Linked DNA regions of Homo sapiens. The protein of the gene in region 1 interacts with the protein of each later gene in a biochemical or structural test. Each region holds a gene or a part of one and is shown in the gene's direction. Other genes may lie near its edges.

What was found.
Region 2: the proteins of BMPR1A (region 1) and BMP4 form a complex in vitro, tested with the Homo sapiens proteins (3 studies listed by BioGRID and IntAct, with this or other methods).
Region 3: the proteins of BMPR1A (region 1) and GDF6 form a complex in vitro, tested with the Homo sapiens proteins (one study listed by BioGRID).

The regions. Positions count from the first base shown.
Region 1 is NC_000010.11:86,913,496-86,917,243, forward strand, and holds part of BMPR1A (bone morphogenetic protein receptor type-1A isoform 3 precursor), read left to right. Parts: intron 1-3,638; coding exon 3,639-3,748. UniProt on the Homo sapiens protein: On ligand binding, forms a receptor complex consisting of two type II and two type I transmembrane serine/threonine kinases.
Region 2 is NC_000014.9:53,950,215-53,953,962, reverse strand, and holds part of BMP4 (bone morphogenetic protein 4 isoform a preproprotein), read left to right. Parts: intron 1-562; coding exon of another isoform or gene 563-687; intron 688-1,733; 5' UTR 1,734-1,740; coding exon 1,741-2,110; intron 2,111-3,074; coding exon 3,075-3,748.
Region 3 is NC_000008.11:96,159,056-96,162,803, reverse strand, and holds the start of GDF6 (growth/differentiation factor 6 preproprotein), read left to right. Parts: upstream 1-1,997; 5' UTR 1,998-2,111; coding exon 2,112-2,517; intron 2,518-3,748. UniProt on the Homo sapiens protein: Growth factor that controls proliferation and cellular differentiation in the retina and bone formation. Plays a key role in regulating apoptosis during retinal development.

The DNA.
Region 1 (3,748 bases):
GCCTTCATAGGCAGACAACATGATTGTTTACGTAGAAAATCCCAAGAATGGTACAATAAAACTACTGCAGCCAGTAAATGACTTTATCAGGTTGCAGAATACAGAGTCATTGTACAAATACCATTGAATTTATAGGCTCTAGCAACAAACAATTAGGTAATTATAAAAACAGTATTTAAAATAGCATCAAAAACCATGAAATATTTAGAATAAGCCTAACAATTTATGCAAGACCTGCACACTGAAAATTATAAAACATTGCTGAAAGAAATTAATAAAGCCCTAAATAAGTGGAGATGTTTATAAATCTGAGGACTCAGTATTAAGATTTCAGTTTTCCTCAAATTGGTGTGTAATTTCATTCGAATCCAAATGAAAATCAGAGCAAACTTTTATAGCAATTGATGTATATTCTAACATTTATATGGAAATGCAAAGGACTAGAAGAGCCAAAACAATTTTGAAGTAGAAGAACAAAGAGGAATCACTACCTGATTTCTGGACTTACCGTAAAACTCAATAATGATCTCAATTTGGTACTGGCATAAGGATAGATGTATTGATGAATGGAACAGATTATGGAGTTTAGAAAGGAACATGCACTTAATATGGTTAATTGATTAAAAAAAAAAAAACAAAAAGATGCCCAAGTAATTCAATTGGAAAAAGGCAGTCCATTTAACAGATGGTGCAGGAAATATCAGGAATCCATTTACCAAGAAGTTAATCTCAGTCCTTACCTCCTCACTCTATACCAAATTAACTTGAAATGTAGCATAGACCTAAATGTAAAAGTTGAAGTATAAAACCTCTAAAAGAAAATGTCTGAAAAAATTATTCTGACCTTGGGCAGACTTCTTCAGTACATAAAAAACACAAATCATTTTTTTAATGATAAATCAGGCTTTATCAAAATTTAAAACTTCTGCTATTTAGAAGACAAGAAAATGAGAAGACAAGTCACAGATTGGCAAAACAGATCTGATACAGGGTTTTTGTGCAAAATATATAAAGACCTTTTGCAACTCAATAATAAGATAACCCAATTTTTTTAAAAAATGGACAAAAGATTTGAACAGACACTTCCCCAAAGAAGATATAAGAATGGCAAACAAGCACATGAAAAGATGCTCAGCATCAGCAGGGATATACAAATTAAACACAGTAAGATACTACTGCACATCCACTAGTATAGCTAAGACTGATAATATTAAGTGGTGCCAAAGATGTAGATCAACTAGAAATCTCATACATTGCTGGTTGGAATGCAAAATGGTATGGCTATTTTGAAAAATAGTTTGACAATTGCCTGGAAAGTTAAGGGCATACTTTCCGTACAATGAAGCAATCCTTCTGCTAATTATTTACCCAAGAGATATGAAAACTTGTCCACACCAGAGGCCTGAATGTGAATGTTTATAGCAGTTTTATTTATAATAGACATAAACTGGAAACAACCCCAAAGCTCATGAATTGCTAAATGAATAAACAAATGCTGGTACATTCATACAGTGGAATATTACTCATCAGTAAAAAGGAACAACTTCTAACACATGTAGCAGCAACAGTGGGTGAATTTCAAAAGTACTTTATGCTACATGAAAGAAGCCAGACACAAAAGGCTACACAAAAGTGATTCTCCTGCCTCAGCCTCCCAAGTAGCTGGGATTAAGGCATGCACCACCATGCCCAGCTAATTTTTGTATTTTTTTTTAAGTAGAGACAGGGTTTCACCATGTTGGCCAGGCTGGTCTTGAACTCCTGACCTCAGGTGATCCACCCGCCTCGGCCTCCCAAAGTGTTGGGATTACAGGCGTGAGCCACCACGCCTGGCCAAAAAGTGAGAATTTTTTTACGTTATTAAAATATTCTGTATCTTAATTGTGGTATTGGTGATTACATGATATAGATTTGTCCAAGGCTTGTTGAACTTTTCTCAAAAAGGGTACATTTTATATAAATTATACCTCAATAATCTTGACTTAAAAACTTACAGGCTGAGGCAGGCAGATCACTTGAGGTCAGGTGTTCGAGACCAGTCTGGCCAACATGGTGAAACCCTGTCTCTACTAAAAATACAAAAATTAGCTGGACGTGGTGGCAGATGCCTGTAATCCCAGCTGCTCGGGAGGCTGAGGCAGGAAATTGTTTTAACTGGGGAGGCAGAAGTTGCAGTGAGCTGAGATTGGCCGCCGCACTCCAGCCTGAGCAACGGAGCGAGACTCTGTCTCAAAAAAACAGAACAAAATTTACAAAAGGATTCTATAATAAATGATACATAAAGTCACTTTAGCTTTGCACTAAATCTAGTCCATTTTAGAAGCATTTCCAACTTGGAGCATAATGTTCTTTTTAATTTAGAATGATCACTAATGCTTCTGAAAATGAAAGATAACAATCCATGTACATCTTTTATTTAACAAATATTAAAGTACTTCTGATATTGTCCCAAATAAATACTTATATTCTGTGAGCAGGGGATGGAATTCAAGCAAATATATATGTAAATAAGAATAAAGTTATGATTGTGTTAAGCGCAGCAACTGAGAGGTTTTGTGTGCTATGAAGGTGTTTAAGTGAGAAAATAGCACTCTAAGTAAAGGGAACTGGATATTCAAAAAAACCCAGCGACAGGAATAAGCTTGAGTGAATTCTAAAAGTTGAGATAAGTCAAACGAGGTTTGTGGGTGGGTGGTCAAAGCAAATAATGGGACCAGGCCAGATCAGGCAGGGTCTTATAGATGGGATTTTTAAGATCTTTAACTGTTATTTGGACTTTGCTGCATAATAAACCACCCCAAAACTTAGTGATGTGAAGCAACAAACATTATTTCTCATTCTGTGAGTCTGTGGGGCAGTTCATTTGTTGGACTTGCTTAGCTAGAGCTAGGTGGTGTAGTTCACACCCTTGGCCGACAGTTCATGCTGCCATTATTTTTTGGTCACAGGGTTCCCAAAGCAGCAGGAAGGGGGCAAGCCCCAGTCCACAAACATTTGTCAGGTCTTTGCTTGCATCACGTTCGCTGTTGTTCTTTTATCCAAAGCAAGTCATGTGGCCTAAGCCCTGAGTCTGTGGACCAAGACTACCCACGACTGTGTGCACTGGGAGGGTAATTATTATGACCATTTTTGCAAACAGCCAGCCACTTGAATAACCTGTTTATGATTTCAGAATACATTGTACATTGTTTCATACTTTAAAGTACATTATGGCCGGGCATGGTGGCTCACGCCTGTAATCCCAGCATTATGGGAGGCCGGGGGTGGGGTGGATCACCTGAGGTCAGGAGTTCAAGACCAGCCTGGTCAACGTGGCTAAACCCCATCTCTACTAAAAATACAAAAAAATTAGCTGGGCATGGTGGCGGGTGTCTGTAATCCCAGCTACTTGGGAGGCTGAGGCAGGAGAATCACTTGAATCTAAAAGGTGAAGGTTGCAGTGAGCCGAGATCGCGCCACTGCACTCCATCCTGGGTGACAGAGCGAGACTCCATCTCAAAAAAAAAAAAGTACATTATAAGTTTTTAACTGGAGTTGGTTGGGTACACCATGCTTTTTGATGAGATGGACTACCCCTTTGCCAGTCTTAATGGGTTTCTTTCATCAAGAGCTCAAACCTTTTACTTTTTTCTATAAAGGTTCAGCGAACTATTGCCAAACAGATTCAGATGGTCCGGCAAGTTGGTAAAGGCCGATATGGAGAAGTATGGATGGGCAAATGGCGTGGCGAAAAAGTGGCGGTGAAAGT
Region 2 (3,748 bases), on another chromosome or scaffold:
GAGCTCGTGTTTGCTTGTGTGTGTGTGGGGGGGTGTGTGTGTACACGCGCGTGGGCAGGGTCCCTCTGCGCTTTCCTTTTTAAGTGCCTCTCGGTGGTGAGGCTTTGGGCGGGTGAGACTTTCCCGACCTCGCTCCCGGCCCCACTTAAGCCGGGTTCGAGCTGGGAGACGCAGTCCCTTCAGTGCGCCCCAAATCCTCTGGCTTCAGGTGGCCCGGCGCGGGGGCCCAGCACGACGCACCGCGCCGAGAACCGGGTTCTCCGTGCGCTGCGCCAGTAGCCCTGGGAGCGCGGCGGCCGCGGGGCACCGGCCGAGGGCTCTGCCGAGCGCCGCCGGGAGCTCCTCCCGGACCGCTGAGGCTCGGGCGGCGGGCGCGGAGGTTGGCCTCGCCTGGAGGGGCGGGCCCGCGAGGGGCGGGGGGCTGTGGAGGAGGGGAGGGCGCGCAAGCCCTTTCGCCGCCTGCCGCGGGAGGGGCCTCGGCGCTCACGTGACTCCGAGGGGCTGGAAGAAAAACAGAGCCTGTCTGCGGTGGAGTCTCATTATATTCAAATATTCCTTTTAGGAGCCATTCCGTAGTGCCATCCCGAGCAACGCACTGCTGCAGCTTCCCTGAGCCTTTCCAGCAAGTTTGTTCAAGATTGGCTGTCAAGAATCATGGACTGTTATTATATGCCTTGTTTTCTGTCAGTGAGTAGACACCTCTTCCTTCCCCCTCCCCGGAATTCACTCTGCCCTCACCACCCCTGCTCGCCGGCTGTCCCTTCCGTCGGACCTCCTTTACAATATCCACACTCTGCTCCCTGGCAGCACTGTCGCTCCCTTCTTGGCCCGGCAGCCGGGGCGCTGGAAGCGTACGGGTTCCTTTTAAAGTGCTGCTAGCGCGCACTCGCCCTCTCAGCGTTGCAAGAAAGGGGAGCGCGAGGGAGCTAAAGAGATGAAAGCCCGGGGTTGTACCTTGAGGGCTAACCACTCCCTTCCCCTATCCAACTTGTCTGGGAGAGCCCCCAGTGTCTCCGTGGCGCGTTCCCACTCTCTTGTCAAAACTCACAGAGGTCTCTCCGGAATCGTCTCTCACCCCTTCCCTGGGGATGAGCGGGCACGATCAGGCACTTTTGGCTGAATATTTCAAACTCATCGGCCACAATAAAATAAGCCCTCAAGCCACCCGGTTAGCTCCCAGACCACCTTCTCGGCTTCTGGACCCTGTCGCCCTCTGTCTTCGCCCAGCCCCTGCCTCTCACTTTCCCTCCCTCTGGCTCTGAACCAACTGGAAGTTGTGAAAGTTGGGCTCTGAGGGTGGAGGAAAAGGGAGAGAAGCTGAAGGTCTAAAGTGGAGAGCAATGCCATTTTAATTCTCCCTCCCCCACCCCTTTTCACCCCCTCAATGTTAACTGTTTATCCTTCAAGAAGCCACGCTGAGATCATGGCCCAGATAGCAGTTAGGACAAAAAAAGATTAACAGGATGGAGGCTATCTGATTTGGGGTTATTTGACTGTAAACAAGTTAGACCAAGTAATTACAGGGCAATTCTTACTTTCAGGCCGTGCATGGCTGCAGCTGGTGGGTGGGCGGGTGGTGTGAGGGAGAAGACACAAACTTGATCTTTCTGACCTGCTTTCCATCTTGCCCCTCCATTTCTAGCCCTAAATGCATATGCAGACACATCTCTATTTCTCCCTATTTATTGGTGTTTATTTATTCTTTAACCTTCCACTCCCCTCCCCCTCCCCAGAGACACCATGATTCCTGGTAACCGAATGCTGATGGTCGTTTTATTATGCCAAGTCCTGCTAGGAGGCGCGAGCCATGCTAGTTTGATACCTGAGACGGGGAAGAAAAAAGTCGCCGAGATTCAGGGCCACGCGGGAGGACGCCGCTCAGGGCAGAGCCATGAGCTCCTGCGGGACTTCGAGGCGACACTTCTGCAGATGTTTGGGCTGCGCCGCCGCCCGCAGCCTAGCAAGAGTGCCGTCATTCCGGACTACATGCGGGATCTTTACCGGCTTCAGTCTGGGGAGGAGGAGGAAGAGCAGATCCACAGCACTGGTCTTGAGTATCCTGAGCGCCCGGCCAGCCGGGCCAACACCGTGAGGAGCTTCCACCACGAAGGTCAGTCTCTTCCCCCAGTCTGCGTGGGGGAGGGCTGGTGGGACTGGCTAGAGGGGCAGTGAAAGCCCTGGGGAAGAAGAGTTCGGGTTACATCAAAGCCCCAGTCCAGGAGGCTGAGGAACAGAGCTGCTTACCTCCAAGAATTTGCAGAGCTGCCGCCGAACTTATTTTTTGGAGACAGAGGGGGAGGTGTTCAGGGGAAGGGGAATGACAGCACTCAGACGTGGGCTAGCCCCAGCGGTGTGTTTTTGCTATATCAAAGCCTTTTCTGCTAGGTTTTCTGCCCGTTTTTTTCAAAGCACCTACTGAATTTAATATTACAGCTGTGTGTTTGTCGGGTTTATTCAATAGGGGCCTTGTAATCCGATCTGAATGTTTCCTAGCGGATGTTTCTTTTCCAAAGTAAATCTGAGTTATTAATCCACCAGCATCATTACTGTGTTGGAATTTATTTTCCCCTCTGTAACATGATCAACAAGGCATGCTCTGTGTTTCCAAGATCGCTGGGGAAATGTTTAGTAACATACTCAATAGTGGAAGAGGGAGAGGGTGGTTGTCTGCATGTTTCCTCCTGCCTGTGCTCTGTTGGCCCCTCTTTTTCTTTACAACCACTTGTAAAGAAAACTGTGGACACAAAGCCAAGGTGGGGGGTTTAAAAGAGGAGTCTGATTGTGGTGCCATAGAGGAGTTGACACATAGAAATTATTAGACATATCAAGGAGGCTGGATATAGTTTCTGTCTTTGGTGCTTGAGAAATGCTAGCTACATTTTGCTGGTTTGTTAGCTGCCCCACTTATCTGCTCCTTCAAATTAAGGGGTATGCTTATTTTCCCCCAGTAGGTTTCCCCTGCATAAGCAGAATTCACCATTCATTGCCCAACCCTGAGCTATCTCTTGACTCTTCCATCTTTGAAAAAAGTTCATATGCTTTTTCTTTTCCCCTTCCTTCCTAACTGTGCCTAGAACATCTGGAGAACATCCCAGGGACCAGTGAAAACTCTGCTTTTCGTTTCCTCTTTAACCTCAGCAGCATCCCTGAGAACGAGGTGATCTCCTCTGCAGAGCTTCGGCTCTTCCGGGAGCAGGTGGACCAGGGCCCTGATTGGGAAAGGGGCTTCCACCGTATAAACATTTATGAGGTTATGAAGCCCCCAGCAGAAGTGGTGCCTGGGCACCTCATCACACGACTACTGGACACGAGACTGGTCCACCACAATGTGACACGGTGGGAAACTTTTGATGTGAGCCCTGCGGTCCTTCGCTGGACCCGGGAGAAGCAGCCAAACTATGGGCTAGCCATTGAGGTGACTCACCTCCATCAGACTCGGACCCACCAGGGCCAGCATGTCAGGATTAGCCGATCGTTACCTCAAGGGAGTGGGAATTGGGCCCAGCTCCGGCCCCTCCTGGTCACCTTTGGCCATGATGGCCGGGGCCATGCCTTGACCCGACGCCGGAGGGCCAAGCGTAGCCCTAAGCATCACTCACAGCGGGCCAGGAAGAAGAATAAGAACTGCCGGCGCCACTCGCTCTATGTGGACTTCAGCGATGTGGGCTGGAATGACTGGATTGTGGCCCCACCAGGCTACCAGGCCTTCTACTGCCATGGGGACTGCCCCTTTCCACTGGCTGACCAC
Region 3 (3,748 bases), on another chromosome or scaffold:
CAAGGGGAGAGCAGCCAAGCTCAATAGCCCAGTGATTAAGAGCCCAGACTCTGGAGTAGTGTGACCCTGGGCCTCACTTTCCCTATCTGTAAAATAGGAATAATACAGCACTTATTTCAGGATTGCTGTGAAGATTAAGTAAAATAATATTGGCGAAGGGCTTCAAACCATGACTGACACACAAGTTCTCTGTGGGTGCTTGCCATTACCTGGAGGAGGCCAGTGTCCAGGGTGGAGGGCATATCCCAGACCTTAAGGAAGTTAAAGGATGAGGGGAGCAGCGCAGCAAAACTCCCTCCCCCTGCAGGCTGTCATGTGAGTGGTCCCTGCAGGACAGAAGAGGTGATGAAAAAGCAAAAGGAAGAAGGGGTTAGAAAGTGAGAGGGAGGAGATTGGAGAGACTGGGAACACACACAGAAAGTAGCATGGCGGAGAAAGAAGCCACCTGAGATCAAGTGAAACCATAAAGAGAAGAAAAAAGCCAGAACTGAAATAGAGAAGTTGGGCCAGGAATGACTGTCTATGCTGTAGTGGGAAGAATCTTGGGCTTGGGGTGGGAGCCTGGGTTCTGTCCCTTGCTGCATAACCTCTTGGCAGAGTGGCCTTGGAAAAGTCACTTATTTCCATTGAGTCTTTTTTTTTTCCATCCGTGAAGGTGAAAATAGTCAACGCCAACCTCACAAAGCTGTTGGCACGATTAAAGGAGGGTACTTTATGGTTGGTGCCTGAGCACCCAATCAGTACTGAGGGAAACTCTTCTGCCCATAGCAGTCCAGGGCAGAGCACTGTGGCAGACAGAAGCAGCGCTACGCCGCATCGCCTTTCAGCGTGCAGGCCCAGGAATGAGCGAGGCAGTGGGCGGGGAAGACAGGCACGGGGAATCTGGGGACAGATAAAGGAAACTCGTGATGGGGCGAGGCTGGGCTGAAGAGAAACAGATTGGGGTAGAGCTGCAAAGGGAGGGGTCCACTGGAAGGCGAGGGGGGAGGCCGGGAAGAGAGAGGGTGGGAAGGCAGTGTGAGATGGGAGGGCAGTGTGAGAAGAAAAGCAGGCTGGGGAAGAGGGATTGGAATGCAGAAGGAACTTGGGGAAGGAGGAAGTCCTGCAGGCGGGAGGGAAAGAAGAGAGGGAAAATGGGGATGCAGTGGAGGCGGGGGGCAGGCCGCGAGAGGGAGAGGATCCCGGGAGCAGACGAAGAAGTGGAGCAGCTAAAGTCTGCGTCAGAAGAGGTTGGGGACTGCGAGAGGAGAGGCTGGGGCCTGCAGGGGAGCGCAGCAGCTTTTAGCATCGATCCAAACTCTAAAGACTCGTGGCCTTTGCCTGACCTCGAGGGTCGGGAATAGACGCCTGTCTTTGTGGAGAGCGATACCCAACCGAGAAAATGGGGCTGTTCCGAGCTGGGCCCTGCGCCTGGCCCAGGGCGAGGCTTCTCTGGCTCCGGGCTGGCCCCTGAGGGGCGCAAACGGCAGGCCTGGCGGTTGGGGCCGAGGAGGGAGGGTACCACCGCCCCGAGGCAGCACGCAGCCTGCAGCAGAGGCGCCTGCTCCAAGCTGTCTCTTGGGGGCGCCGCCGCCGCTTCCCTCCTCCGGGGCCGCTCGCTCCCAGGAAAGTGGAGGCGGCTGGCGAGGACCGAGAGCCGGGGCCGCGCTGCGGAGGGACCACACCTCCGGGAGTTCGAGGGGGACCCTGGCGCGGCGGGCCAGCCTTTGCTCCCCGGCCACGGGCCGGCAGCGCCCGCCTTCCCCCGGTCAGCGCTTGCGGCCCGCGCCGCGCGCACCGCCCGGCAACCCCGCGCGCGTCCCGCGGGGGCGCTGCGTCTTCCTGCCACACCGGCGCACCGCGGCCCCTCTCCCCCACACCTCCGGCCCGCACCACCCGGCTCTCCTCCCACCCTCCCCACCCCTCCTCTGCCCTCCCTCCCCATTCCTCCCCTCCCGGCGAGGGGCGGGAGGGGGCGTGGCGGGGCCGGGGTTTGTGTGGCTGGGACCCGGCTCCTCGCACTCCGAGTCCGCCCGAGGAGCCGGGCCCCGGCCGCTGTCCAGCCGCTCCGTGCCCCGCGCGTCCTGCGCCGCCGCCACCGCCTCCTGGGGAGACGCAGCCACTTGCCCGCCATGGATACTCCCAGGGTCCTGCTCTCGGCCGTCTTCCTCATCAGTTTTCTGTGGGATTTGCCCGGTTTCCAGCAGGCTTCCATCTCATCCTCCTCGTCGTCCGCCGAGCTGGGTTCCACCAAGGGCATGCGAAGCCGCAAGGAAGGCAAGATGCAGCGGGCGCCGCGCGACAGTGACGCGGGCCGGGAGGGCCAGGAACCACAGCCGCGGCCTCAGGACGAACCCCGGGCTCAGCAGCCCCGGGCGCAGGAGCCGCCAGGCAGGGGTCCGCGCGTGGTGCCCCACGAGTACATGCTGTCAATCTACAGGACTTACTCCATCGCTGAGAAGCTGGGCATCAATGCCAGCTTTTTCCAGTCTTCCAAGTCGGCTAATACGATCACCAGCTTTGTAGACAGGGGACTAGGTAAGTGGCAAAGAAAACGCTCGACTCCCCTCCCGCTGGAGCTCGGCAGCCAGGGAGCTGTTCCCGCTGGAGGCTACATTTGTGAATTCCCTTCCTGCTCTGGACACTTCCTTTTTACTTTTCTTAAATTGTTTTTCTCAAGCTCGAGTAAGTTTCTGAATGTGGCTGCGGATTCTATTCCAGTCTCTAAACCTCCCTTCCTTTCCCCCCCTTTCTTTCTCTCTCCCTTCTTTCCTTCTTCCTCTTTTGCAGAAGGCAGCGTGGTTGCCGCTTGTTGGTGGCTGGTGGGGGAAACGTGGAGGACGGGAGGCAGCAGGCGGATGAACCCGGCTGGAGAGGGGTCGGGATGGGGACTGATGGAATCGGTGTCTCGGGATACTGGGTTCGCAGTCCAAGGCCTGAGCTGCTGGGGCAGATCTAGGGCATGAGACAGCCTTGGAAAGCCCTGGGCAAAGCCGGCACTAGGGAGTCCCACAGTCTGAGGAACTAGTCCGCGAGCGGCGTCGGGCAGCCCCCTGGTCCTGGCGCCGCGCGGGTTTTCCGTTGGTCCCTGCGCTGGGTGGGATGGTCAGCCGGGCTGGAGCCCTGCGCCCTCCGGCTTTTTTGCTCCAGCGTGGTGCTCCCGGCTGCTCCGAGGCCTCAACACGAGTGGTTTCTGCAGATGCGGCGGCAGCAGTTGGGCGGGCCGGGACAGGGACGGCTAAGTTCGGAGGTTGTGGGTACTTAATACACAAAGGTACATGGGTATGCCCATCCACCTTTCTCAGCCAGGCGACGTTCCTCTCTCTACGCTATTCCTGAGGGCTGGTGGGGGTCTGGGAAATCCCTGGTACCCTCTGTGGGAACGCCTGCATGTGTGGGTGTCTGCGGAAACCCTTGCGGCCCCTTCTTGCCACCGGCGTTGATCTGCAGCGTGGCCAGTGCCCTCAAGAAAACCTCGCACCACCTCTGGTCCCAGAAATCAGGGAAGGATCCACAGGCATCGGAAACTAAGCTCCTAAAGGAGAGAGACAATAATGTGGAAGGAGACAGGAAAGGAAGGGAGAAAAAGGAAAGGAAGAGTAAAGAGAAGGAAGGAAGAAAATGACGGGATAAAAGCGATTTAGGCAGATATCCACTCCTCCATCCTCCCTAGACTTAGCTCCATGACTTTGACCTGCTCCCAGTTAAGTGGGGTTGCCCGGAAACCTTGCAGCGCTGGGGTTCGGGATTCGGAAGCTGCTTCAGCCAC